3 separate regions of the Homo sapiens genome follow, and all the other regions are linked to region 1. Evidence: fine-mapped expression QTL. A gene starts in region 1. Each other region holds a variant in brackets. All regions are shown on one strand. Distances are between the middles of the regions. Region 1 holds the start of ARHGAP27 (Rho GTPase activating protein 27). Region 2 overlaps ARHGAP27 (Rho GTPase activating protein 27). Region 3 has its middle 30 kb from the start of LINC02210.

The links.
Region 2: its variant is fine-mapped to the expression of ARHGAP27 in whole blood (TOPMed, PIP above 0.99).
Region 3: its variant is fine-mapped to the expression of ARHGAP27 in whole blood (TOPMed, PIP above 0.99).

What each region holds. Positions count from the first base shown.
Region 1 is chr17:45,429,424-45,437,597 of GRCh38, reverse strand. ARHGAP27 (Rho GTPase activating protein 27) reads left to right here and starts at 4,728. Exons shown (of 20, transcript NM_001282290.2): 1 at 4,728-4,846; 2 at 5,249-5,382; 3 at 5,846-5,977; 4 at 7,301-7,975. The coding sequence starts at 7,319. PLEKHM1 (pleckstrin homology and RUN domain containing M1) reads left to right here. Exons shown (of 12, transcript NM_014798.3): 12 at 1-1,698. RefSeq lists enhancers at 1,106-1,759, 6,943-7,443, 7,444-7,944.
Region 2 is chr17:45,393,611-45,401,784 of GRCh38, reverse strand. It overlaps ARHGAP27 (Rho GTPase activating protein 27), which reads left to right. Exons shown (of 20, transcript NM_001282290.2): 13 at 3,738-3,836; 14 at 4,761-4,869; 15 at 4,995-5,117; 16 at 5,200-5,298; 17 at 5,501-5,578; 18 at 5,668-5,802; 19 at 5,936-6,041; 20 at 6,152-7,877. The coding sequence ends at 6,329. Among named protein-coding and RNA genes, the nearest start is that of ARHGAP27, 35 kb to the left of the region's middle. RefSeq lists a silencer at 5,876-6,033 and an enhancer at 6,665-7,324. The variant G/A (reference allele first, on the strand shown) is at 4,688.
Region 3 is chr17:45,586,710-45,594,883 of GRCh38, reverse strand. It overlaps the pseudogene DND1P1. Among named protein-coding and RNA genes, the nearest start is that of LINC02210, 30 kb to the left of the region's middle. The variant C/T (reference allele first, on the strand shown) is at 4,323.

The DNA.
Region 1 (8,174 bases):
TTTACTCACCAGGCCCTGGCTCACCAGCGTCCCGGCGCCTCCGTTAGGGCTGCCCAAACACTGTGGAAAGGGGACTTGGGGAGCATTTTCAATTCCACATTCCTGATTAAAAGGTCTAGTTTTTTAAGGTGGGTTTTTCCCATTCATATTTCAACAGAAAGTATTTTTTTATTCTTGACCCTACGTGAGTCACCCATGAAATCCAGACATTCTCACCCCCAGCGGATGCACAGGAGCCACTCAGGCCTGGCTTAGAGGTAGCGGGTGGCTGGTGGGCAGGCCACTGCTGGGACAGGGTCTATGGGCCCACCCAGTGCCTTTCCTTGGCCCTCACTGCCAGTGCCAAACCGCCCCTCAGCAGGGCAGGGCCAGTCCTGGCGACCCCGGTTCCTCTGTGTCCTCTTTACTCCCCACCCCAGTGCGTCTCGCCTGCTGAGCCCACCGCTTTCTCAGCGTCAGAGCCCCTAGCTCTTCTCTAGCCTGGGGCCTTGGCCCCATTAGGAGAAGGAGAAATGACTGGAAACCAGCACTGTCAGCACTTTGAGCCCTCCTCGGTTTATGGAGGGTCGCCGTCTTGCCCACCCCCGATCCCCGTGCGCTCCTCACCCCTCTACAGACAGGGGCGCTGCTGCAGATGCTCCAGGCCCACCTTGGTGGGTGCCCGGGGTCACACTCTCTGCCTGACTGACCCCTGCCAGGGCACAGATAGGCAGGACCCCAGAGAGGGCAGGCAGCCACGCCCTGCACTGTGGAGAAGTGACCTGGTCCTAAGCTGTGCAGGGCGTGCGGGGGAACTGCCCTGTGGATGCAGCCACCACCTCACAAAGCCATGAATTCCCAAAGCATCACTGAACTTGCCCAGCCGGGACACTGGAGACTGAAGAAGTTCCCCGGAGCAGGACTGCCTTTGAAGGGGCCTTGGGGCTGGGGTGGGAGTCTGGAATTGTTTTCAAAGTGATGGTCAGACCCTCCAGGCTTCGGGGAAATGTGGGTTTGCTGGTCTCTCTGTCGCCTTCCCCCACCTCTCCTGGACCTAGCAGGCCCTCAGTCCTAGCTGTCTTACCTGCGCTCAGCTTGGAGTCAGGCCTCAGGTGGAGAGCCGCATGTCACTGTCAGAGATGAGCCCACCCCCACCCTTCCCTGGGGGCGATTAGCTGCTGAGTCACCCACCCAGCCTTGGAGCTGGATGCCTGTGCAGCAGAACAGAGGCAACGGTGGCAGGCAGGTGGAGGCTGCGCACAGCTTCTCCCGGTCATGGCACACACCTGTGCCCAGACGCCAATGCCTCCTAAGCCAGGAGCTGGGTTATGCACCGCCATGGCCCACATTAACGCTCCACCACAAGCCCAGCCTAGTCAGAGCCCTCATTGCCCCATCCCTGAGTGGGCAGGAGCCTGGCCTGGGGAGGGCTTGGGCCTGTGAGGATTCTCCCCGAAGGTGCCCTCGGAGGCAGCAGGTTTGAGGCCCTGGGGGGCCCGTTCCCCAGAAGCTGCCAGTGCTTTCAGATGCATTGACTCTTCCCGCCTCCCCTCCCTCAGAAAGGTAGTGCCCACACTATTTTTAAAATGTTATTTTATGCAATACACTGTTCCTAGTGAGCAGGGCTCTGGCCCTGAGGAGTCTTTGCAATGTATTGAAGGAATTGCTGCCGTGTGAGTTTTGAATGATTTTGCAGTAAAGACCTGATCTTTCTCATCACTGGTCTGGCTTCTGAATTCTAACACTGCCACGGCCAGGGGGGAGACCACCAGCCATCTGTTACCATCTGTCAGGGTCCCCTACCCTCATGTTAGTCCCTGGCACGGGGGAAGGCTTGGGAGGTCCGTGGCAAACACTTGTAGGCAGAGGGCTTGCATGCCAGGAGTGGGCAGGGAGAAGAGAGTAAGAAAACCACCTTGCCAAGCCCAGCAGTCAGGCTCTTCCTGGGGTAGGATCTCAGGGTCTCTGGGGAGGTGTACCCACACTTGTATAACAACTCAAGCTGATCCCACGCCGGTGGCTTCTTTTCCTGTGACTTAAATGTCAAAACACAGACCCTTGACACTGGATCATGTGAAACCTCAGGATACAGGGGACATTTCTCAGAGGAGAAATAAAGGAGAGATGGGGCTCAGGAAAGAAGGGTTATTTAAGTGGATCCCCCGATTCAGGGCTCATGGTTTTAGGGCTCAAAATGACTTTTACTTGGCTGCTGACCTTCCTCAGAAGTTCCAGGAGAAGCCCAGGGGACCCCTCCAAGGGGAGGCCCACACCACTGTCCATTTTAAGAACAGGAGCAGGAAACAGACTTAATTCTCAGGGAAATCAGGTTGCAGTAAAATGGGATGGAAACAGACAACATTCAGGTCTGAGATTTCCTGTCCTTAAAGGCCCCTTTCAGATTACAAGGTGGCACCCTCTGCCAATCTAGGTGCCCCAGCTTCCCCCAAGGGCTTCACCTCCCTCCAGGACAGTAGATGGTAGGCCCGGAGAAGAGAAGAGAAACTGGGAGAGGGAGGCCCAGAGGAGGGCCACAGCACGTGACCTGGTGCTGCCCTGCCGGTGGGTTCAGGCCCTCTCCAGCCTCAGCAAAGCGCCCCTGAGGCCACTTGTTTCCCCTTCTCCCCTCCCTTTTTTTTTTTTTTTTTTTTGGATACAGTCTCACTCCAATGCCCAGGCTGGAGTGCAGTGGCGTGATCTTGGCTCACTGCAACCTCCACTTCCCGGGTTCAAGCAATTCTCCTGCCTCAGCCTCCTGAGTAGCTGAGACTTCCCCTTTTCCTCTTCTCTCTGAAGGAGGACAGGTGGTTTGGAGATTCCAATCCAACCCCCAAGAGCTTATCATATAATGTAAGTAGTCATAATAGCTGATGTACCCCGGCATGGTGGCTCACACCTGTAATCCCAGCATTTTGGGAGGCCGAGGAGGTTGGATCATCTGAGGTCAGAAGTTCAAGACCAGCCTGGCCAACATGGTGAAACCCCGTCTCTACAAAAATACAAAAATTAACTGGGCATGATGGCGGGTGCCTGTAATCCCAGCTACTCAGGAAGCTGAGGCAGGAGAACCACTTGAACCCGGAGGCGGAGGTTGCAGTGAGCCAAGATCGTGCCGCTGCACTTCGGCCTGGGAGACAGAGTGAGACTCTGTCTTAAAAAAAATAGCTGATATATTGTGTGCGCTGGGCATGTGGTAAGCACTGCTTAGTGGACCTCATTTAATCTTCCCAATAATCCAGTGAAGTGGGTGTTACTATCCCATTGACAGGAAAGAAATCTGAGCTGCAGAGATAAGGCAGAACTCCCAAGGCCTACCAGCCGCCAAGCAGCAGAGTGGGGCATCATACCTGCCTGACCCCACGCAAAGACCATCACCACTGCCAGCCACTGCCTGGCTGTGCTGCAGGTGGAGAGGGACCTAAAAGGTAGGGAGGGAGAGAAGATTCCTCCAGCCACGATTTTCTTTTTTTCTTTTTTGGTTGTTGTTTTTTGAGACGGAGTCTTGCTCTGTCGCCCAGGCTGAAGTGCAGTGGCACGATCATGGCTCACGGCAGTCTCCGCCTCCCAGGTTCACACCATTCTCCTGCCTCAGCCTCCGGAGTAGCTGGGACTACAGGCTCCCGCCACCACGCCCGGCTAATGTTTTATATTTTTAGTAGAGACGGGGTTTCACCGTGTTAGCCGGGGTTTCACCGTGTTAGCCAGGGTTTCTCAATCTCCTGACCTCATGATCCGCCCGCCTCGGCCTCCCAAAGTGCTGGGATTATAGGCGTGAGCCACCGTGCCCGGCACCAGCCACTATTTTCTAAGCATGTCGGGCACCAAAGACCAGTGCTGAGTTCTGCTGTGTGCCCACCCTGGAGGGTCCCAAGGTGCCACCAAGGCTCAGACACACAGATTCTCAGAGGAAGTGTGGACTCACAGGTGGGCAATGCCTAGCAGAGGCAAAGATATAGAGGTAAGGGAGTTCCTTACTTACTATATCTTACAAAGATATAGAGGTAAGGGAGTTCCTTACTTACTATATCTTACAAAGATATAGAGGTAAGGGAGTTCCTCTGAATCTGGGTGGCCAGATTCAGCTTCCCACCCAACCCTGGGTCCCCAGGAGGTGGTGTCAAGAGAGGCCATGGCCTGGGATGCGGGCCCTTCTTCCTCCCAGAACACTGGCCTGAATCAGCCAGCTCTTGGCACACACAGCCAGGTCCACAGGCACAACTGTTCCTTGGGGCCCCTGAGGGCAGGGGGTGTGCTGGGGCTGTGGCTTGTAATGTCTGGAGTGAGTGCAGGCTCAGATCAGGGCGAGGCTGCTTGTCCAGAGAGGCAGAAAATTCTCCAACAGAAGACCCCCAAGGCGGAGGGCCCTGGGGCTGGACTCCTGGAGGTTGTTCTGAGCTTACCCTGTGGACGGATTGGAGGGTGGCCCTCCTTCCCCACAAGGATCAAGAGGGGGTGGGGGATGGTGGGAGGGCAATCTGGCCAGGCGAACCTGCGGGGGAGGCTCCCGCCCTCCCCAGTCCCACCATCTCAGCCCCGCAGCCTCTTTCTCCCTGGAGACAGCCAGGTGCGGCCCAGGATCCCGGGAAAGGCAGGGGAGGGGGTGGCGTCTTCGCTCCTCAGGCGCTGGCCCGGCCCAGAGGGGACAGGAAGCCAGGACACCGGGGATTGTCTCTCGCAACCGCAGCCCAGCCCCAGTCCGGGAGGAAGTTCTGCCCGGCGCTCTCCGCCGGTGCCTCCCTGGTTATATTGTTGAACAGGAAACCCGGCAGCGCGGGAGCCGCACAGTCGAGGAGGGAGCGCGGGACGCCGAGCCCACGCGCGCCTGCCGGGGCAAGTGGAGGCGAAGCCGGCGAGCGGACGCCCCGAGGTGCCCGGGCAGGCAGGGTCGGGAGTGGGGCGCCGAGCGGGGGTTGGGGGTGGGAAGTGGGGTGGGGGTGGGGAAAGGGCAGGGTTGGGAAGGGAAGGGTGCGGCAGGTGGCGGGTCCGCACCCGGGAGCTCCGCGCGCCTGCTCCCCTTGTCTCCGCGCTGGGGCGGGAGCTGCGCGGGCCGCATCCCACGGGGAGGAGAAGGTAGGCGAAGGGCTGCCCTCCATCTGGGGGCTGGAGGGAAGCAGGCCCAGGCCCCCAGCGCCGACCCAGGCGTTGACGCCCCTGTAGCTTGAGTCGCCTGGGCAGTGGACGCAGGGGACCTCCTGGCGACTGGTGCGCTGTCGCGCTCCAGGGATCCTCCCGGCTTCCCCAATCCCTCCCCTTCTCTGCGTTTCCCCAGGGTCGGGGAAGGAACCGAGGTCCGGTCCCCTTCTTATCCAGCCCGAGACATCGAGCTCCGGTGGGCGTCCCTGCGCTGGGAATCCCGCTCGGAGTTTTTCCAGGCCCGGCCGGGCTGCTCCGGGAAAGGCCCTGGTGAGGGAAGAGGTGGGCCCGGAGCGGGCGGATTTGCAATCCGGTTGGAAGGGCTCGCAGTGGGTGATTCAGGGTGCAAATGACCTCCCCGGGAACAGGAACGCCCGCACGAGACAACCAGCCCCAGCCCGGCATTCCCAGAGCCGCGCACAGGAGGGACGCAGGCACTCCCGGACAGCAAATCCCGGGGGGTGGGGGGTGGGGGGGCGGGGAATAGAGGGGGAAGGCGGAGCGGGGGCGGTCCCATCCTCCTTGGGCTCCGCTCGCGACCTGCCAGTGCCCCTTCAGACGCAGCAGTCCCGGCTCCAGGTGCCGGCCTTCTGCTCTGGGCCTCGTCCCAATGCCCCCCAAGGTCCCCAGCAGAGGCATTCAGGCTCCTCCTCGCCCCACCCAGACACGGCTGCTTTGGGTATCGGTGACAGCACTCCTGAGCGTCCCTGTCCCTCTTCGCTCTGCTTGCCAGCTCCTGTTCCGCGCAGCCTCTCCGGCCTCGCCCCTGGAAACCCCGCCCAGGGCGATGGTAGGGGCCTAACCTGCAGCCACCGCCGGCTCCGCCCACCCAGCCCATGGGCTCCCTGAGGCCCGCCCAGCCGACGTGAGTGCGCTGCGGGGTCCAAGGGGAGGGGGCGCCGGGGGAGTGTCCTGCTTGGGGTTTGTTGGTTCAGCACCGGGCAGCTCGATGACCCCGCCTCCGGGGCCCAGCGTGCTTAGTGACTCAGTTTACACCCTTTCCTCGTCGAGGAACGCTTGACAAAGTGGCGGAGGAGCCCTGCTGGGGCCCCCGTTGGAACCTGCTCCTCTGCCTCGGCAAGCGGCGGTCTCCTGGCCCCGGGTCCGGGCCACCTTAGGGGGCAGGAAGAGGTGTGGTCAGTGTGGGAGTTTGGAGGGGCCATGCACTTCCGGAGAAAACCGACTCATGGCTTTGGTGGAGGGGCGCAGACAGATTTAGTTAGGCTCTCCCCCATCCCTGACACCCCGAAGCCCGGGCGGGAGCGGGGCTTATGACCACCACTCCGGAGAGCTTTGGGTGGCCCTGCTCTGGGACTCCGCACTTATAGTCACTGTCTCAGAGTGCATTCTCCAGGAGCCACTCGTGGGGACACTGTAGGGGTCACAGGGCAGGTGGACAGGCCACAGGGGCAGGGCCTTTCTCGGGGGGCGGCGTGAGAGCTGGAGAGCAGGGGGCGGTGCGGGCCGGGCTGGGCGGGCCGGGCTCGGGCTCACGTCTGCGGTGATGCAGCTGGGGAAGGAAAGAGAAACCGAGAGAACCGGTTCCCCTGCATTGGCAGCGGAGGCCTCTACAGCAAGGCCCTCGGACTAAGGGGGGCAGCGACAGCCCCCAGGTAGAGCTGTTCGCTCGGCCCCCTACAGAGCCCACATTCCAACTCTGACCAGGGGGTCGGGGCGCAAGCTGCTGGAGGGAGGCAGTGCTACGAGACCCTCTGCTGATTCTCTGCGGGCGGGAGGCTTCCAGGCGGGACAGAGCCGGGGAGCGGCAGTAAATGGGGTGTTCTTCCTACTTGACTGACGGAAAACTAAGGCGCAGTCAACTATTAAGCAAGCGTGGTGTCGACCTTAGAGCGGGCAATCACCCCTCGTTTTAAAGCCAAGGCTTCCCTCGCAGTCGATTTGGACCAAGACTACCCACAATCTCCCCACCGCAGGACTGAAGCAAGGGTCAAATCTTAGAATCAACCCCACAGAACGAAGGGCTGTCCTAATTCCAGCACTGAGTGTAAGAATGGAAGCCTTACATGTGATTTTATGCAAGTTCCCATTTTAGAGATGGGAAAACTGAGGCCCGAAGGCGAACGGCGAGTGCAGGATCGGGACTCGAACCCAAGTCTGTCCCCGAGTGCGGGGCTATTCCAGGCTCGGTGGTCTTGACCTCCGCGGCCCTCCTTCTTGTTGCCCGCAGGAAAACGCCGCGGCTGCGATGGCGGCGGACGTGGTGGGGGACGTGTACGTGCTGGTGGAGCACCCCTTCGAGTACACCGGCAAGGACGGGCGCCGCGTGGCCATCCGGCCGAATGAGCGCTACCGGCTGCTGCGGCGCAGCACCGAGCACTGGTGGCACGTGCGGCGTGAGCCCGGCGGCCGCCCCTTCTACCTGCCTGCGCAGTACGTGCGCGAGCTGCCCGCGCTGGGCAACCCTGCCGCCGCCGCGCCGCCAGGTCCCCACCCGAGCCCCGCGGCCCCTGAGCCGCTCGCCTACGACTACCGGTTTGTGAGCGCGGCGGCGACCGCGGGCCCCGACGGCGCCCCCGAGGAGTCCGGAGGCCGAGCCAGCTCCCTGTGCGGCCCTGCGCAACGCGGCGCCGCGACCCAGCGCAGCAGCCTGGCGCCCGGCCTGCCAGCCTGCCTGTACCTGCGGCCCGCGGCGCCCGTGCGGCCCGCGCAGTCCCTGAACGACCTGGCCTGCGCCGCCGTCTCGCCTCCCGCCGGCCTCCTAGGAAGCAGCGGCAGCTTCAAGGCCTGCAGCGTGGCGGGCTCCTGGGTGTGCCCGCGGCCTCTGGCGCGCAGCGACTCAGAGAACGTCTACGAGGTCATCCAGGACTTGCACGTCCCGCCGCCGGAGGAGAGCGCAGAGCAGGTACCTCCCCGGGCGCTGGGGCGCGGAGGCGGGTGGCGCGCTAGGGACCGCGCCCGCACGGAGCCGGGGCGCAAGGAGACCCGCTCCGCTCAGCGTCGGGCACGACGCCCACCTCTGTCCGAAGACTTCGGATGAGCTCCCTCTCCCCAACCGCGAAACGTGAGGGGTGCACGCCCGCAGTCCCTCATCAGCAATTCCC
Region 2 (8,174 bases), 36 kb after region 1:
AGAAGGGCTATCAGGTGCATGTCTCTTTGTTGTTGAACAAATAATAAAACCCACCCAGATGTTGAGGGAATCAAAGCTTTTTCCTAACCCTTCACTCTTAAATTTCTTGTATGTAGCTCCATGAACATGGGATCTAGAAGCACATGCCAGGTACCCTGCAAAACAGCTCCAGGAAGGTTTAATTCAGGATCCGGGACTGCTTCAGGTAGCATCATTATGATGAAGGCCAAGAGCATGACCTCATGTCTAAGCTCAGAAAAAACAGTTCTGCAAGGAACCTGAGAGTGTAGTTTCCTGATTATTCACCAAGCTCCATTCAGTTCTAGAGCCAGGATATCTATAAAGCAAAGTTGGAAAACTGGTTTCATCTCATGAGCTACTCTGATGAGTAGGTCTGGAGTCTTGTGGGGTTTTGTTTTTGTTTTTATTTTTTGTTTCTGTTTTTAGAGACAAGGTCTTGCTCTGTTGCCCAGGCTGAAGTGCAGTGGCACGGTCAGAGCTCACTGAAACCACAAGCCCCTGGGCTCAAGCGATCTTCCCACCTAAGGCTTCCGAGTAGCTAGGACTACAGGCGCGTTCCATCACATCTGGCTAATTTTAGTTTTTATAGAGATGGGGGCTCACTATGTTGCCCAGGCAGGTCTCAAACTCATGGCCTCAAGTGATCCTCCAGCCTTGGCCTCCCAAAGGGTTGAGATTACAGGTGTGAGCCACTGTGCCTAGCCTGGAGCCTTCTTGAGAAGAATTCTGAAGGCTTCTCTGGGCTTGGCAGGATAGAGTTCTGTGATCAACTAACAATATCTGCTATGGTGTTAAATTGAGGAGAGACATCACTATTATGATTATGATTATGATTATGATTATGATTATTATCCAGAGTCTCACTCTGTTGCCCAGGCTGAAGTGCAGTGGTGCAATCTTGGCTCACTGCAACCTCTGCCTCTCGGATTCAAGTGAGTCTCCTGCCTCAGCGTCCCGAGTAGCTGGGACTACAGGCGCCTGCCACCATACCCGGCTAATTTTTTTGTATTTAGTAAAGACAGGGTTTTACCATGTTGGCCAGGATGGTCTCAATCTACTGGCCTCAGGTGATTTACCTGCCTTGGCCTCCCAAAGTGCTGGGATTACAGGTGTGAGCCACCATGCCCGGTCTGAGACATCACCTGTGCTAGTCATGTTTCTCCCCTGACTTTGAGGGATAGGTATATCCTTCAAACAGTTCTCAATGAAGATCATCACTGATGGACTTTTGATGAAAGTTTCAGAATAGGGCTTTTTGAGTTGTCTTTGCTGGCAAGGACTGGAAGGCAGGTGCTGCTCAGGCCAGTGGGAAGGTGGGCAGGCCTGAATGGAAATCACAAGCCCCTGCCTCCTGGTTGACTGCTGGCCATCCTCCCTCCATGCAGGGCGGCCTGTAGGCAGCTCCAGGGTTTTCCTCAAGAGACAGCCCCAAATTTTATATCATTGAGGATGGATGGCTTTGTTGGGCCCAGGAAATTTTCACAGCAGGTCTTTCTAGTCACCCCGAGTTACAGAAAACTTCAGCAACAGTCCGCCAAAAGCTGCTAGCATTTGCCTGTGCGGTCAGCAGGATAAATGTTTTGTTTATTTGTTTGTTCTTAGAGATAGGGTCTTACTGTGTTGCCCAGGCTGGAGTGCAGTGGCTTGATCGTAGCTCACTGCAGCTTCCAACTCCTGGACTGAAGTGATGCTGTCACTTCAGCCTCCCCAGTAGCTGGAAGTACAGGTGCACACTAGCATGTCTGGCTAATTTGTAAAAATTTTTCTAGATATAGGGTCTCACTATATTGCCCAGGATTGAACTCCTGGTCTCAAGGACTCCTCCCACCTTGCCCTTCCAAAGCACTAGGATTATGGGCATGAGCCGTTGTGCCTGGCTGGGGGTGAATATTTTGTGAAATACATTGCTATGTAATGATACAGCTTTGCCCTCTATATGAAACTTGCAAATATGAACTGATTATGTTTTGAGAGAGCTGCCAAAAATCATGGCTGTTGTTTTAGAAGTGTTGTCAAGCCATTCTCTGGGATAATCTTGAGCAGGGCTCTTGTCTGCTTTGATTAGAGTGAGGCTGTGTTATCTGCCTCTTGAAGGTTCTCTGTCCTTTGCAGGGGAGGGCTAGGGGATGAGATATGCCATTTTCTTTTCTTTTCTTTTCTTTTCTTTTCTTTGAGACAGAGTGTTGCTCTGTTGCCCTGGCTGGAGTGCAGTGGTGCGATCTCGGCTCACTGCAATCTCTGCCTCCCGGGTTCAAGCGATTCTCCTGCCTCAGCCTCCCGAGTAGCTGGGACTACAGGTGCGTGCCACCAGGCCCAGCTAATTTTTTGCATTTTTAGTAGTGGCAGGGTTTCACTGTGTTAGCCAGAATGGTCTCCATCTCCTGACCTCATGATCCACCCGCCTCAGCCTCCCAAAGTGCTGGGATTACAGGCATGAGCCACTGCGCCCAGCCTCATTTCATTTTAAAAAGCAGTTTAAATAGTCTTCAAGTATAAGTTTAAAAGGACAGCAAAGATAGTCCAATCCAATTCTAGAAGTTGTGTCCTGGGGTCTGAGACAGTTTCTGTTGTCTCTGACTCTCGCTGAACCAAAAGGGCAGGGTTGGTGTGAGCTGTTGCCGCCAAACATTCACATTAACCTGGAACACTGGGTCCTCAGAGCCAGAGGCTGATAAGGAATCCAACTAAGCTGCCATCCAACTCAGAAAGGGCTTTGAGCGTCAGTCCTATGGTGGCAAGTTTCCCTCTGGTGTTCTGTTTAATTTATGCTTCATGATGAAGCGGGCTAACAGAAGATGTGTTGCCCAGGCTGGAGTGTGGGAGGTGGTGGGGACTCCTGGCTGCAGAAGGTGGGACAACGTTTCTGAGTCCTCAGTGTGTGTATGGGGAGGGGCAAGGGGAGACCTTTCTTTCCCTGGGATCAGCCATGATCAGCTTTCAAATCCTCTCTCCCTATATTCACTGTTGCTTCTAGTAGACAGGGGTCTCAACATAGGAAGTTTCTGGGTTTTGTTTTGTTTTTTTTTTTTTGAGACGGAGTCTTGCTCTGTCGCCCAGGGTGAAGTGCAGTGGCATGATCTCGGCTCACGGTAACCTCCGCTTCCCGGGTTCAAGCAGTTCTTCTGCCTCAGCTTCCCAAGTAGCTGGGATTACAGGAGCCCGCCACCATGCCTGGCTAATTTTTGTATTTTTAGTAGAGACGGGGTTTCACCATGTTGGCCAGGCTGGTCTCAAACTCCTGACCTCATGATCTGCCCGCCTCGGCCTCCCAAAGTGCTGGGATTACAGGTATGAGCCATCGTGCCTGGCCTCACATAGGAAGTTTCTTTCACTTAGTTTGCAGGCCAGTGCTCTGCATGAGGCCTGCCATGTTCTGTGGCTTGCAGGGAGGCAGGATGGGGGAGGGAAAGTGTACCAGACAATTGAGCCATGCAGCTCTGTGCTCATCACTCACTAGCTGTGTGCCCATGAGGAAGCAGCTAAAACTTGCTGAGCCTCAGTTTGCTCATCTGTAACACAGAGATGCTGTCAGCCACTGCTTTACGTGAGGCAGAGATCCAAGACTTAGCCTGGGGTGAGGCCCTTGCTCCATTAAGCTCTGAGTGCCTGGGGGCAGGGACAGGTCACCTCTATCTCTGTACCTACCCCCAACTAGGGCCAACCCCCAGGGCAGACCCAGGGTACCAGAGATGACCCACTGACTTGTGTCCCTCCAGCTACGGAGCCGAGATGGCTCTGAGTACCTGATCCAGCACGACTCGGAGGCCATCATCAGCACCTGGCATAAGGCCATTGCTCAGGGCATCCAGGAGCTGGTAAGCAGAGCCCAGGGCCTCTAGGGGCAGTGGGGAGGGGGTGGCCATTATGAGTGGGGCCCTCTGCTCAGGCTCAGGGAGCTCTAAGGTACCAGTGGGTAATGCAAATGCAGTCCCCACTAATGGCTAGGATGGCAGGGTAGGCGGCTGAAGAAACTGCCTTCTGTAAGTCTGTGAATCCAGCCCTGGGGTTGGCCCTGCAGGAAGACTCTCCAGGTGAGGGTAGGGCACATTCTAAAGGAAGTTCCCATTTCACGGGAGGCAGAAGGCCAAATAAATACTCTGCAAGCCAACCAATGGCAGGCTGAAACTAGCAGATAAAATTTTAAAGGATTGATTTCAATAGTCGACCATTTTTTTAAGGCTGAAAACACCAATTGCATAAGTAGAGCTAGGACAGGGGCCCTCTGACAACTACTGACCTGGAAATGACCTGGGGCTTTTTGACCCTTAATTCCCTATGAGCCAACATTGAGTGAAGCTTTTGGCTGTATTAATAGAGGTAGGAATCCAGAGCCAGAGAGGTGATATTGGTGCAGTTGTTGGCAGTGCTCCGGCCACAGCTGGAGGTGCAGGCTCAGAACTGGGAGCCACGTATTGAGGAATGCTGACCCAGTTAGAGGAGCTGAGGAAAATAGAGAAAGAAGGCACCAGGTGGGTAGGAGTCCCCAGGATAGGAAGGGGTGTGGGAGAACAGGATGACTGTCTCTGCACCTTAAGGGCTCCATGCAGCTAAGGGAGGTGAATGTTCTCAGGCTCACTGGTGGAGGTAAGGAGAGTTAACCTGGTTAAGGGAAGAGAGGACTCTTCGCTGAGGGTCTCCAGGCCATGCCTGTTGGGAGTGCATTTCG[G/A]GTCCCTTGCCCCATCCTGGAAGGACCCGCAGCTGGCTCAAGGCCCCGCCTCTCTGAGGCTATGGGAATCCAGTCCGCAGAGCTGCCCCCAGAGGAGAGCGAGAGCAGCAGAGTGGACTTCGGGTCGAGCGAGCGCTTGGGAAGCTGGCAGGAGAAAGAGGAGGACGCGCGACCGAATGCAGGTGTGCGCAAGGCAGGATGGGGTGGGGGCTCCAGGAGGCCTCTCCTGGGGAGTGACGGTTGCTGGGGCCTGCCTGGCCTGCCCTGGCGCTGCCTCCTGACTCAGTCCTGCCTTTCCCCGCGGCAGCCGCGCCCGCCCTGGGCCCCGTGGGCCTGGAGAGCGACTTGAGCAAGGTCCGGCACAAGCTCCGCAAGTTCCTCCAGAGGCGGCCCACACTGCAGTCGCTGCGGGAGAAGGGCTACATCAAAGGTACCCGAGGCCTGCGGGGGGCGGGGACCCGGGACCGGGACGGGGCGCAGGCTGGGCAGGAGCTGATGAGCCTCTGCCCTAGACCAGGTGTTCGGCTGCGCGCTGGCCGCGCTGTGTGAGCGCGAGAGGAGCCGGGTGCCACGCTTCGTGCAGCAGTGCATCCGCGCCGTCGAGGCCCGCGGTACGTGCGCTGCGGGGGTGAGGGCGGCAGGCATTGGGGTGCCCGCAGGCCTCCTGCCAGGACCGCAGGCTGGAGACCCCTGGATGGACGCAGGGTCCAGGGGGAAAGTACGGGAGGCCCCGAGTGGGAGTCATAGCAGGGACCCGTAGCCCCACCCTATCCCCATCCCTGAACCCGGGATCAGCGCCTCCCTCTGGCCCAGGGCTGGACATCGACGGGCTGTACCGCATCAGTGGAAACCTGGCCACCATCCAGAAGCTACGCTATAAGGTGGACCACGGTGAGGCCCGTCCCCAACCCCTGCCCCAGGGCCTGAAGGCGCAAGGGGTACTGATTTCCCTTCCGTCCTCCTCCCTTCCTCCGCCACAGATGAGCGCCTTGACCTGGATGACGGGCGCTGGGAGGACGTCCACGTTATCACCGGAGCCCTGAAGCTCTTCTTTCGGGAGCTGCCCGAGCCCCTCTTCCCCTTCTCGCACTTCCGCCAGTTCATTGCGGCCATCAGTGAGCACCTGGGGCAGGTGGGGCGGATGGGGTAGGGGCGTGGCGGGGCACCCCTTTAGCAGGCTCCCCTCGCCCAGCCGATACCCCCTACCTCCCGTTCCGACTCCCTCCCTCTAAACCTTCCCTCACCCAGAGTTGCAGGACCAGGCCCGGCGCAGCCGCTGTGTGCGTGACTTGGTGCGCTCGCTGCCCGCTCCCAACCACGACACTCTGCGGATGCTCTTCCAGCACCTCTGCCGGTGAGCCGGGCGGCCCGCGCGGGAAGGGGGAGGCAGGTCCCGGCTGAAGCCCCCAGCGCCTCCCCGCAGTTCGCAGTTCGGAGCCCTGAACCCACCCACCCCTGCCACAGGGTGATCGAGCACGGCGAGCAGAACCGCATGTCGGTGCAGAGCGTGGCCATTGTGTTCGGGCCCACGCTGCTGCGGCCCGAGGTGGAAGAGACCAGCATGCCCATGACCATGGTGTTCCAGAACCAGGTGGTGGAGCTCATCCTGCAGCAGTGCGCGGACATCTTCCCGCCGCACTGACTGCTGGCCTGTGACTGGGGCGGCGGCCGCGGTCCTGCCACACAAGCTGGGCGGCGGAGGCCACGCAGCCGGGCCTTCTTCTCTCTGGGACCCTCCGCCAGCGCATAGCCGCAGGCCGGTGTGACTTCTGCACCCTCGGTTCTGAGGGTACGGTGACCCCTAGTGGGCAGTTTGCAAAATGTGATTCCTTCTTCCCAACTCCCCATCCCCCCTTCCCTTCCCGTCACGTCCTGTTTGGGGGTTAATTCGGTTTTTTCTCTGTTGCATCGCGCCTACTGTGCGTGTGCGATAGCGTGTGTGGGGGTGAGAGTTTGTTTTCTGGAATGGTAGGTGCTGGGAGGAGGAGTTTGATGGAGGGCTTCCTGGCTGCTTCTGGCCCTCACCTCGTGGAGGCCTTCACAGAGACCCTGTGGGCCCTGGCCCTGTGCTGGCACTGTGCCAGTCATGAGGCAGCTCTGATCACTTCCCCACTGTGGAAACAGGACTGACCCAGCCTTCAGTGTGGGCTGCTGAAGCTATCCTCCTCAGGCCTCAGGGATGACCTCCTGCCTGAGCCTCTCACAGGCTGGCTGTGGGCCAGTTTCATCTGCTTTCCTGTTGGGGGTCCCGGGCCTCTGCTGTCCTTGACCCACTGGTGTTCTGTGCAAGGCTTCTTCCCATTCACCAAGTGCACACCTTGCATCTGCCGCTCGGCATGCACCAGTTCCACACACCATCCCATTTTACAGACAAGGACGCTGAGGCCTGCAGCAGCAGTGTGACTTGCTCAAGGTCCAGTGAGTGACCTCATTCCCCAGAAAAGGCTCCTCCCACACCAGAGTACAGCCTGGGTAGGGGGAAAATCAGTTCTTTCAGCTACCACCCATCCAACCTTTGGGCCTATGTGAAAAGAAAGGAACTAAGCTGGGTGTGTTCTGTCTGGACCTGGGGAGGCCCCTGAAGGCAAAGAGGGAAACTGTCCCAGCTGTTCTGTCCTAGGGGAGGGGGACATAGCCCTAGCAGGAGCTCCCAGCCCCTCTTGGCACTCTGACACACAAGTACACCCATCTGGGGCCCGCTTTGCCACGAAGAGCTGGGCAGGCCTGCAGGGTGTGGGGAAGGAGGACACAACCTCAAGAAAGGAAGCGTGAACCCCAGGGAACAGCGGGTCCCTTCCCTCCTCAGACACAAGCCACCTCAGCTTGTGGCTCTTGGCCCCCAGCCCCACCAACCCACCTGTTCATTTATTCAACAGACAATGACAGCTGATATTTATTGGACATTTGCACCATGCCAAGCATTCGGCTTGGATTATCCCATTTGTTTCTCACAGCCGGTATTTATTGTCTGCTCCTCTGTGCCAGGTGCTGTGCTCTGGGCAGGGGCACTGCATGGGCTGCCTGCCCTGGTGGAGCTTGTGGTCTGATGGGTGAGGCTGACCCAAGCCCACCCCATTGCCAACAGGGCCAGGGCAAGAGTACACACAGGGGCCTCATACCATATGTCTAAATATTTAAAAGTTATCAATCAAGCTAACAACTGTTAAATAAAATATGTTCTATTCTCCTACTTTGACAAATGTGTCTTGATAATGACCTGGAAGGCCAGGTTCTAATTTAAACTTCTTTGACTTTTCCAAGTTCCATGCCCAAATGTGGTGGCCGGAGAAGGGCAGGCCCTGGGCTCAGCCTTCCCTCTCATCTTCCCTCCCACAGAGCCCTCCTCCCCCAAGCAGAGGCTCACGGGCACATATGTGGACATCGTAGTCCATGTGTGCCAACTGCCCATACCCCCTGCAGCCAGCTGCCGCTTGGCTACCCCACTGGTGACGTAGTCCACCCTTGAGGGAATGGGCTTGGAGCTATT
Region 3 (8,174 bases), 160 kb before region 1:
TGCAGTGAGCTATGATCACACTACCACACTCCTGCCTGGGTGACAGAGCAAGACCCTGTCTCAAAAAACAAACAAAAAACTCTGGTATGATAGAGGTGAATTGTCTGTTTTATCCTGATAATTCTGCTTACTTTAGTCCCGTGGTTCTCAACTGGGCCAATTTTGCTCCCCAAGTGACATTTGGCAATATCTGGGCAGAGGTCAAGGACGCTGCTTAACATCTTTTTTTTTTTTTTTGAGACACAGTTTTGCTCTTGTTGCCCAGGCTGGAGTGAAATGGCACGCTCTCGCCTCACTGCAACCTCTGCCGGGTTCAAGCGATTCTCCTGCCTCAGCCTCCCGAGTAGCTGGGATTATGGGCATGCACCATCACGCCTGGCTAATTTTGTATTTTTAGTAGAGATGGGGTTTCTCCATGTTGGTCAGGCTGGTCTCAAACTCCCAACCTTAGGTGATCAGCCCGCCTCAGCCTCCCAAAGTGCTGGGATTACAGGTGTGAGCCACCTCACCTGTCCTGCTTAACGTCTTAAAACACACAGGACAATTCCCCCATAAAAAAATGATGACCAGCCAAAAATGTCAACAGTATCAAGGTGAAGAAATTGCCATAAAGGCTTGGTAAACAGGGATGGTATGACGACACTATTGATAGGCCACATTAAAATACTTAGGGCCATATCCATTATCCCTGTTTTTATGATTTCTTCTTTGTCCCCATGCAGTTTCAGGGGCAAAATAAGGGAGTAAGTCAAAGGTGGTTCCAAATAGACATCTGGGAATCTTAGGGTGTAATATGGCCCTCATGGAGGCCCTTGCTGAGCTTAGGGCCTGATTCTGGAATCCTAGCATTGCCAAGAGAGGCAGGCTGGCAGGTGAGAAGACAAATAATGGGAGAGCCCACATATGTTGGAATTCATTTGATGGTATCTAAGCTGGGGTGATTGTCCCCACTAGCATTACATGACTATGGATCCAGTTATTTGGAGAAATCCATTTCCTCCACAGGGAATATATGCTACATTAGAACCAAAGATGGAATCCTTAGTAAATGGAATCATTTGGCAAAATTCAGTTGTCTGAAATTTTTGCATAAAATTCTCTTTTTTATTTTCATTGAGCCAAATAAATAAAGTATCAGGTATTTACTAGGGTCACCATTCTTTGATTCATTGATTTTTTTTTTCAGACAGGATCTTGCTCTGTCACCCACGTTGGAGTGCAGTGGCATAATCTCAGTTCACCGCAACCTCCACTTCCTGGGCTTAAGTGATTCTCCCGCCTCAGCCTCCCAAGTAGCTGGAAATACAGGTGTGTGCCACCATGCCCGGCTAATTTTTGTATTTTTTGTAGAGATGGGTTTTCATCATGTTTCCCAGGCTGGGTTTTTTTTTTTTCAAATGTCTTAGGGTTTTCGCTTTATTATTTCCTTGATATCCACAGCAGAAGTTCAGAGGTATAACTTCAACATTAACAGGTGAAAAGTTCTACAATGACTCGTTGCACTCCATCACATTAGAATAATTGAACTATAATTTCCATACAACACAAGAAAACTACAGTATTTAGTGACAACTGAAAGATACCTGATAAATAAATATATCAACTTACTACTCATGAAAAGAATGGAGCTGGTTATTTCAGCTATAAAAGGGCAAAGCAAAAAGACCATTTTCTAGCCATTTGAAAGTTACTCAAAAAATTGATACAATGGAATGGAAAGGAAAACAAAAAAGATTGTAAGCAACTTTAACAATGTTCTTGCATTCTACTGATACACAAACCTCTAGGGTTTCAGTTGACACAATCAAGTTCAACTTGTACTGACAGAAAATATTAAAAACCTTCCTATTGAGTTTTTAATATCAAACAGGGAGGTTAGTAAATTGTTTTCTGATTCTTCTACAAAAAAAAAGTCTAGAAGAGGGACAGGGAATGTAGTGTGCACCACTTATTATTATTCTAAGTAATAATTTTTACTTACGAGGTCAACACGAGTGCAAAGGGCTTAGTGATGCATCTTATTCTTTAATTTTGGACAGTAACACCCTCAGATGGTATTTTTATTGGTTTGTTTTATATCCCCCTTTTCCATTTGCCCTTCTGTTTTGAAGTGCTTTTTCTTAAAACTTAAGTTCTTTGCCTCCATTTTCTTATAAACCCAATTTCCTCTTTAGTGCAACTCTACCATTTGAAAGGAACCTTTCTATTGTAATTTACAAGCTGTGAATAACCGCTATGTAATTCTTTCCAAGGATTAATAAACTGAGAGATGATTTGAACCAACAGAGGTAGGGAAAGATTAGAAGGGGGATGCAAGTAGCCACAGATCTTAGAGGCGGCCAGCAGAGGGCGCTGCTCCAAGGTGAAGGTTGCACCCTGAGAGGCCATCCTTTTTTGTAGGACCAGACTGGGGTGTAAGGACAGTGCCTCATCCTCACAACGACAGACCTGTGTTCTGGGTGTGGATTTGCCTCCCTTGCCTGCGGGACTTCTGCTAGCACTGCCGTTCCTAGACTTAGACCATGCTAGAATGAGTCCAGGAACCGAGGAGAGGAGATGGGAGTGGCTCCTCCCACTGTGGCCCCTAATAATTCACATGAAGAATTTTTGCTTTCCTTGCCAGGGACCCGGGACTCAGTGGGTCCAGAGGTCCTAGTGCCAAAGGAAGAAATGTGTAGATCAGGAAATACTATTATGGTTTTATTCAACTGGAAGCCGAGGCTGGCCATTTATTGTATGTATTTATTTATCTATCTATTTATTTATTTATTTATTTATTTATTTTGAGACAGAATCTCACTCTTGTTTCCCAGGCTCCCAGGCTCAAGAGATCCTCCTACCTTAGCCTCCTGAGTAGCTGGTACTACAGTCGCATGCCACCTTGCCCAGCTAATTTTTTTTCTTTTTTTTTTTTTTTTTTGAGACGCAGTCTCATTTTGTTGCCCAGGCTAGAGTGCAGTGGCGCGGTCTTGGCTCACTGCAACCTCCACCTCCTGGGTTGAAGCGATTCTCCTGTCTCAGCCTCCGGAGTAGCTGGGATTACAGGCATGTGCCACCGCGCCTGGCAATTTTTTTTTTTAGTAGAGGCGGGGTTTCACCATGTTGGCCAGGCTGGTCTCAACTCCTGACCTTGTGATCCGCCTGCCTCAGCCTCCCAAAGCGCTGGGATTGCAGACATAAGCCACCGCGCCTGTTTTTTTTTTTGTTTTGTTTTGTTTTCTGACAGAGTCTCTGTCACCCAGGCTGGAGTGCAGTGGTGTGATCTCAGCTCACTGCAACCTCTGCCTCCTGGGTTCAAGCGATTCTCCTGCCTTAGCCTCCCAAGTAGCTGGGATTATAGGCGCACGCCACTATGCCCAGCTAATTTTTGTATTTTTAGTAGAGGTGGGGTTTCACTGTATTGGCCAGGCTGGTCTCAAACTCCTGACTTCAGGTGATCCACCCACCTCGGCCTCCCAAAGTGCTGGGATTATAGGTGTGAGCCATCAAGCCCAGCCCTGCCCAGCTAATTTTTACACTATGGGCAAGTATGCTGCCCAAGAGTGCTCTGGAACTCCTGGGCTCAAGTGATCTTCCTTCCTCGGCCTCCCAATGTGCTTGGATTACAAGCATGAGCCACCTTGCCCAGCCGAAGCTGGCCATTTAAAGTTCCTCATGCTGCTGAATCAATAAGGATGGAAGGCGGCTACTATTATGGGCTAAGTGTTTGCATCCTCCCCAAATTCTTTTTTTTTTTTGAGATGGAGTTTTGCTCTTGTTGCCCAGGCTAGAGTGCAGTGGCGCGATCTCTGCTCACTGCAACCTCCACCTCCCAGGTTCAAGTGATTCTCCTGCCTCAGCCTCCCGAGTTAGCTGGGATTACAGGCATACGCCACCACACCCGGCTAATTTTGTATTTTTAGTAGAGATGGGGTTTCTCCATGTTGGTCAGGCTGGTCTCAAACTCCCGACCTCAGGTGATCTGCTGACTTCAGCCTCCCAAAGTGCTGGGATTACCGGCATGAGCCACCACGCCCAGCCCCCAAATTGTTTTTTTTTTTTTTTTTTTTTGAGACGGAGTCTTGCTCTGTCACCCAGGCTGGAGTGCAGTGGCATGATCTTGGCTCACTGCAAGCTCTGCTTCCCGGGTTCACGCCATTCTCCTGCCTCAGCCTCCCGAGTAGCTGGGACTACAGGCGCCCGCCACCACGCCTGGCTAATTTTTTGTATTTTTAGTGGACACGGGGTTTCACCGTGTTAGCCAGGATGGTCTCGATCTCCTGACCTCGTGATCTGCCCGCCTCGGCCTCCCAAAGTGCTGGGATTACAGGCGTGAGCCACCG[C/T]GCCCCGCCTCGACCCCCAAATTCTTATGTTGAAGCCCTCACCTCCATGTGATGGTATTAGAAGGTGGGGTCTTTGGGACGTAATTAGGCTGACAGTGCCCCATGATGGGATGAGTGTCTTAAAAGAAAAGACCAGGTGGTCTGGCTAGTGGCTCACCCCTGAAATCTCAGCACTTTGGGAGAAAAGACCAGGTGGTCTGGCTAGTGGCTCACCCCTGAAATCTCAGCACTTTGGGAGGCCAAGGTGGGTGGATCACTTGAGATCAGGCGTTTGAGACCAGCCTGGGCAATATGGTGAAAAGCCATCTCTACTAAAAATACAAAAATTAGCTGGGCGTGGTGGCGCAAGTCTGTAATCCCAGCTACTTGGGAGGCTGAGGTGGGAGAATCGCTTGAACCCGGGAGGTGGAGGTTGCAGTGAGCCCAGATCATGTCATTGCACTCCAGCCTCCAGCCTGGACAGAGAGAGCATCTGAGAGTCTCTGTCTCAAAACAAAAAGAAAAAAAAAAAAAAGAAGAGACCAGAGAGCCTTTCTTCTCTTTGTCCACCAAGTGAAGATATAGCAAGAAGGCAGCCATCTGCAAGCTAGGAAAAGAGCCCTTGCCAGCACCCAATCATGCTATCACCCTGATATGGGACTTCCCAGCCTCCAGAACTGTGAGAAATCAATGTCTGTTGTTTAAGCCACCCAGTATGTAATAGCAGCCTGAGCTAACTAAAACCATCACCGAACTAGCCTCTTTACCTATGATTAGCAAGAGGAAAATGGCTCTGTTACTTAGTAGAGGAAGGAGGCTATGTCTGAAAGCCAAAAATTCACTGGGGACACATCTTAGCAGGCTCTTGACCCTAAGACCTGGTTAATGGAAAAGTAGAGCAACCCAATAAAAACAAGACCACCAAGAAGTCAGGTCTTATGGAATAAAGTATTGAGTGTCCCTATGAGGCACAGAACCCTTCGAAAGGGGATTGGAAGAAGTGGTGGAAGAAGGCGGCTATGATTATCAACTTAGACTTCATCGCCATTTGTAGAAGGAGGCTTCTAACAGCTATGTTTTATGTTAATTGGCTCTTTTCTTTTTTCTTTCAACCTTATATTAAGAGCACTGGCAGAAGCTAGCGGTTTTGGTATCCTGTAATTATTAGTTGTATAACCTTGGCCAAGTAACTCAACCTTTCTGTGCCTCAGTTACTCATCTGTAAAACAGGGTAATAAGTCTCAACCTCGTACTTATGTTGTTATAAAGATTTAACACTAGGCTGGGCATGGTGGCTCACACCTGTAATCCCAGCACTTTGGGAGGCCGAGGAGGGTGGATCACCTGAGGTCAGGAGTTCAAGACCAGACTGGCCAACATGGCAAAACCCTGTCTCTACTAAAAATACAAAAAATTAGCTGGGTGTGGTGGCACGTGTTTGTAATCCCAGTTACTCGGGAGGCTGAGGCAGGAGAATTGCTTGAACTAAACCTGGGAGGCGGAGGTTGCAGTGAGCCAAGATCGTGCCACTGCACTCTAGCCCAGGCAACAGAGTTAGACTCTGTCTCAAAAAAAAAAAAAAAAAAAAAAAAATTAACACTTTGAACAAAAAAGAAAAAAATAATAAAATTTAAAAAAGATTTAACAATTGGGCCAGGCATGGTGGCTCATGCCTGTAATACCAGCACTTTGGGAGCGTGAAGATGGAGGATTACTTGAACCCAGGAGTTCCAGACCAGCCTGGACAACAAAGCAAGACTTTGTTTCTACTTTAAAAAAAAAAACCAAAGTCAGGTGTGGTGGTACACACCTGTGATCCCAGCTACTTGGGAGGCTGAGATGGGAGGATCCCTTGAGCCTTGGAGGTTGAGGCTGCAATGAGCCATGATCATACCACTGCACTCCAGCCTAGGCGACAGAGTGAGGCCCATGTCAAAAAAAAAAAATTATCCCCAACATTTAGCAGCTTAAAACAAAAAACATTTATTATATCACACTTTCTGTGGGTCAGGAATCTGGGAGGGACTTAGCTGGGTGGTTCTGCTCAGTTCTCTTGGGATGTTTCAGTCAAGCAGTGGCCTGGGGCTGCACTCTTATCTGAAGACTCAATTGGGAGAAAATATGCATTCAAGGTCACTCGTTGGTTGTTGGCAGGCTGTAGTTCCTCACTGAATATTGGTTGAAGACTTCATTGGCTTACTACCTGGACTTCTCCACACACTGCCTGAATGTCCTCCCCACATAGCTAGAGTGAATGAACTAAAAAAGAGAGAGAACACACACAGCCCAGGTAAGAGTTCAGTCTTTCTAAGTCATTATATGAAAAAGATTCTTTTTTTTTTTTTTTGAGATGGAGTCTCGCTCTGTCGCCAGGCTGGAGTGCAGCAGCACGATCCCAGCTCACTGCAACCTCTGCCTCCCGGGTTCAAGTGATTCTCCTGCCTCAGCCTCCCAAGTAGCTGGGATTACAGGCGTGTGCCACTATGCCCAGCTAATTTCTGTACTTTTAATAGAGACGGGGTTTCACCATGTTGGCCAGGATGGTCTTGATCTCTTGACCTTGTGATCCACCCACCTTGGCCTCCCAAAGTGCTGGGATTACAGGAGTGAGCCACCGCTCCTGGCCGAAAAAGATTCTTGCACACACATGTTTATAGTAGCACTATTCACAATTGTAAAAATGTGGAACCAACCCAAATGCCCATCAATGAGTGGCTAAAGAAACTGTGGTATAGATATACAGTGGAATACTACTCAGTCATAAAAAGGAATGAATTAATGGCATTTGCAGCAACCTGGACGGGATTGGAGACTATTATTCTTGTTTTTTTTTTTTTTTTTGAGATAGAGTCTCACTCGGTCACCCAGGCTGGAGTGCAGTTGCGCAATCTTGGCTCACTGCAAGCTCTGCCTCCTGGGTTCACACCATTCTCCTGCCTCAGCCTCCCAAGTAGCTGAGACTACAGGCGCTTGCCACCATGCCTGGCTAATTTTTTTTTTTTTTTTTGTATTTTTAGTAGAGACCGGGTTTCACCATGTTAGCCAGGATGGTCTCGATCTCCTGACCTCGTGATCCACCCGCCTCAGCCTCCCAAAGTGCTGGGATTACAGGCGTGAGCCACCGCACCCGGCCTTTTTTTTTTTTTTTTTTTTTTTTTTACTAACCAGGGGTTTAATATAAATACAACCAGCATAGAAAGACCCAAAACTATACAGAAACCAAAACCAGAATGCCATGTGGTGGAGGCAAAGGGCATAATTCCTGACCCCTTTGGCTCAGCTGCCCTTCCCCACAAATAAAAACCAACAAACAGGACAAATCAGGACAATAAAGAAGATTCATGCTAAGCTGTGGCAGAGGGGGGAAGGTATGATCGGGTGGGGGTGGGACAAGGAATGGCCAGGGAAGATAACTGGGTCAGGTTGGACCCTGGGCTGGGAGGGGGAGGGCAAGGCCCATCACCACAACTTAAGCAAAACCTAAGCTGCCCCCAGGTGCCATAGGTCCCTGTCCCAGCAGGGAGGCTGATGGGCCTGGGCCCATGCCCCTCCCCACCTTTGGGGGTCAGATAGTGGCCACCCAGGTCTGCTGGGTTGGGGCCTGACACAGGCTGTGCATGCCCATTCGGGCTGCCTGTGGAGAGAGAATGGAGTCACTGTTTAACCATGCTACCTGCCTCAGCCCCAGCAGACCACAGGAGGTTGGCCCCAGACTCAATGAGTGCCTGCAGCAGCCGTACAGACACAGCATCCTTGGCCACCTCATGCCCATCCCGGCCATCTAGGATCAGCACAACCCAGATGAGGCCGCTGAAGGGCACCGGATGCCCAGGAATCACCACCTGGTACCAGAAGCGGTGCCAGCCAGCAGGT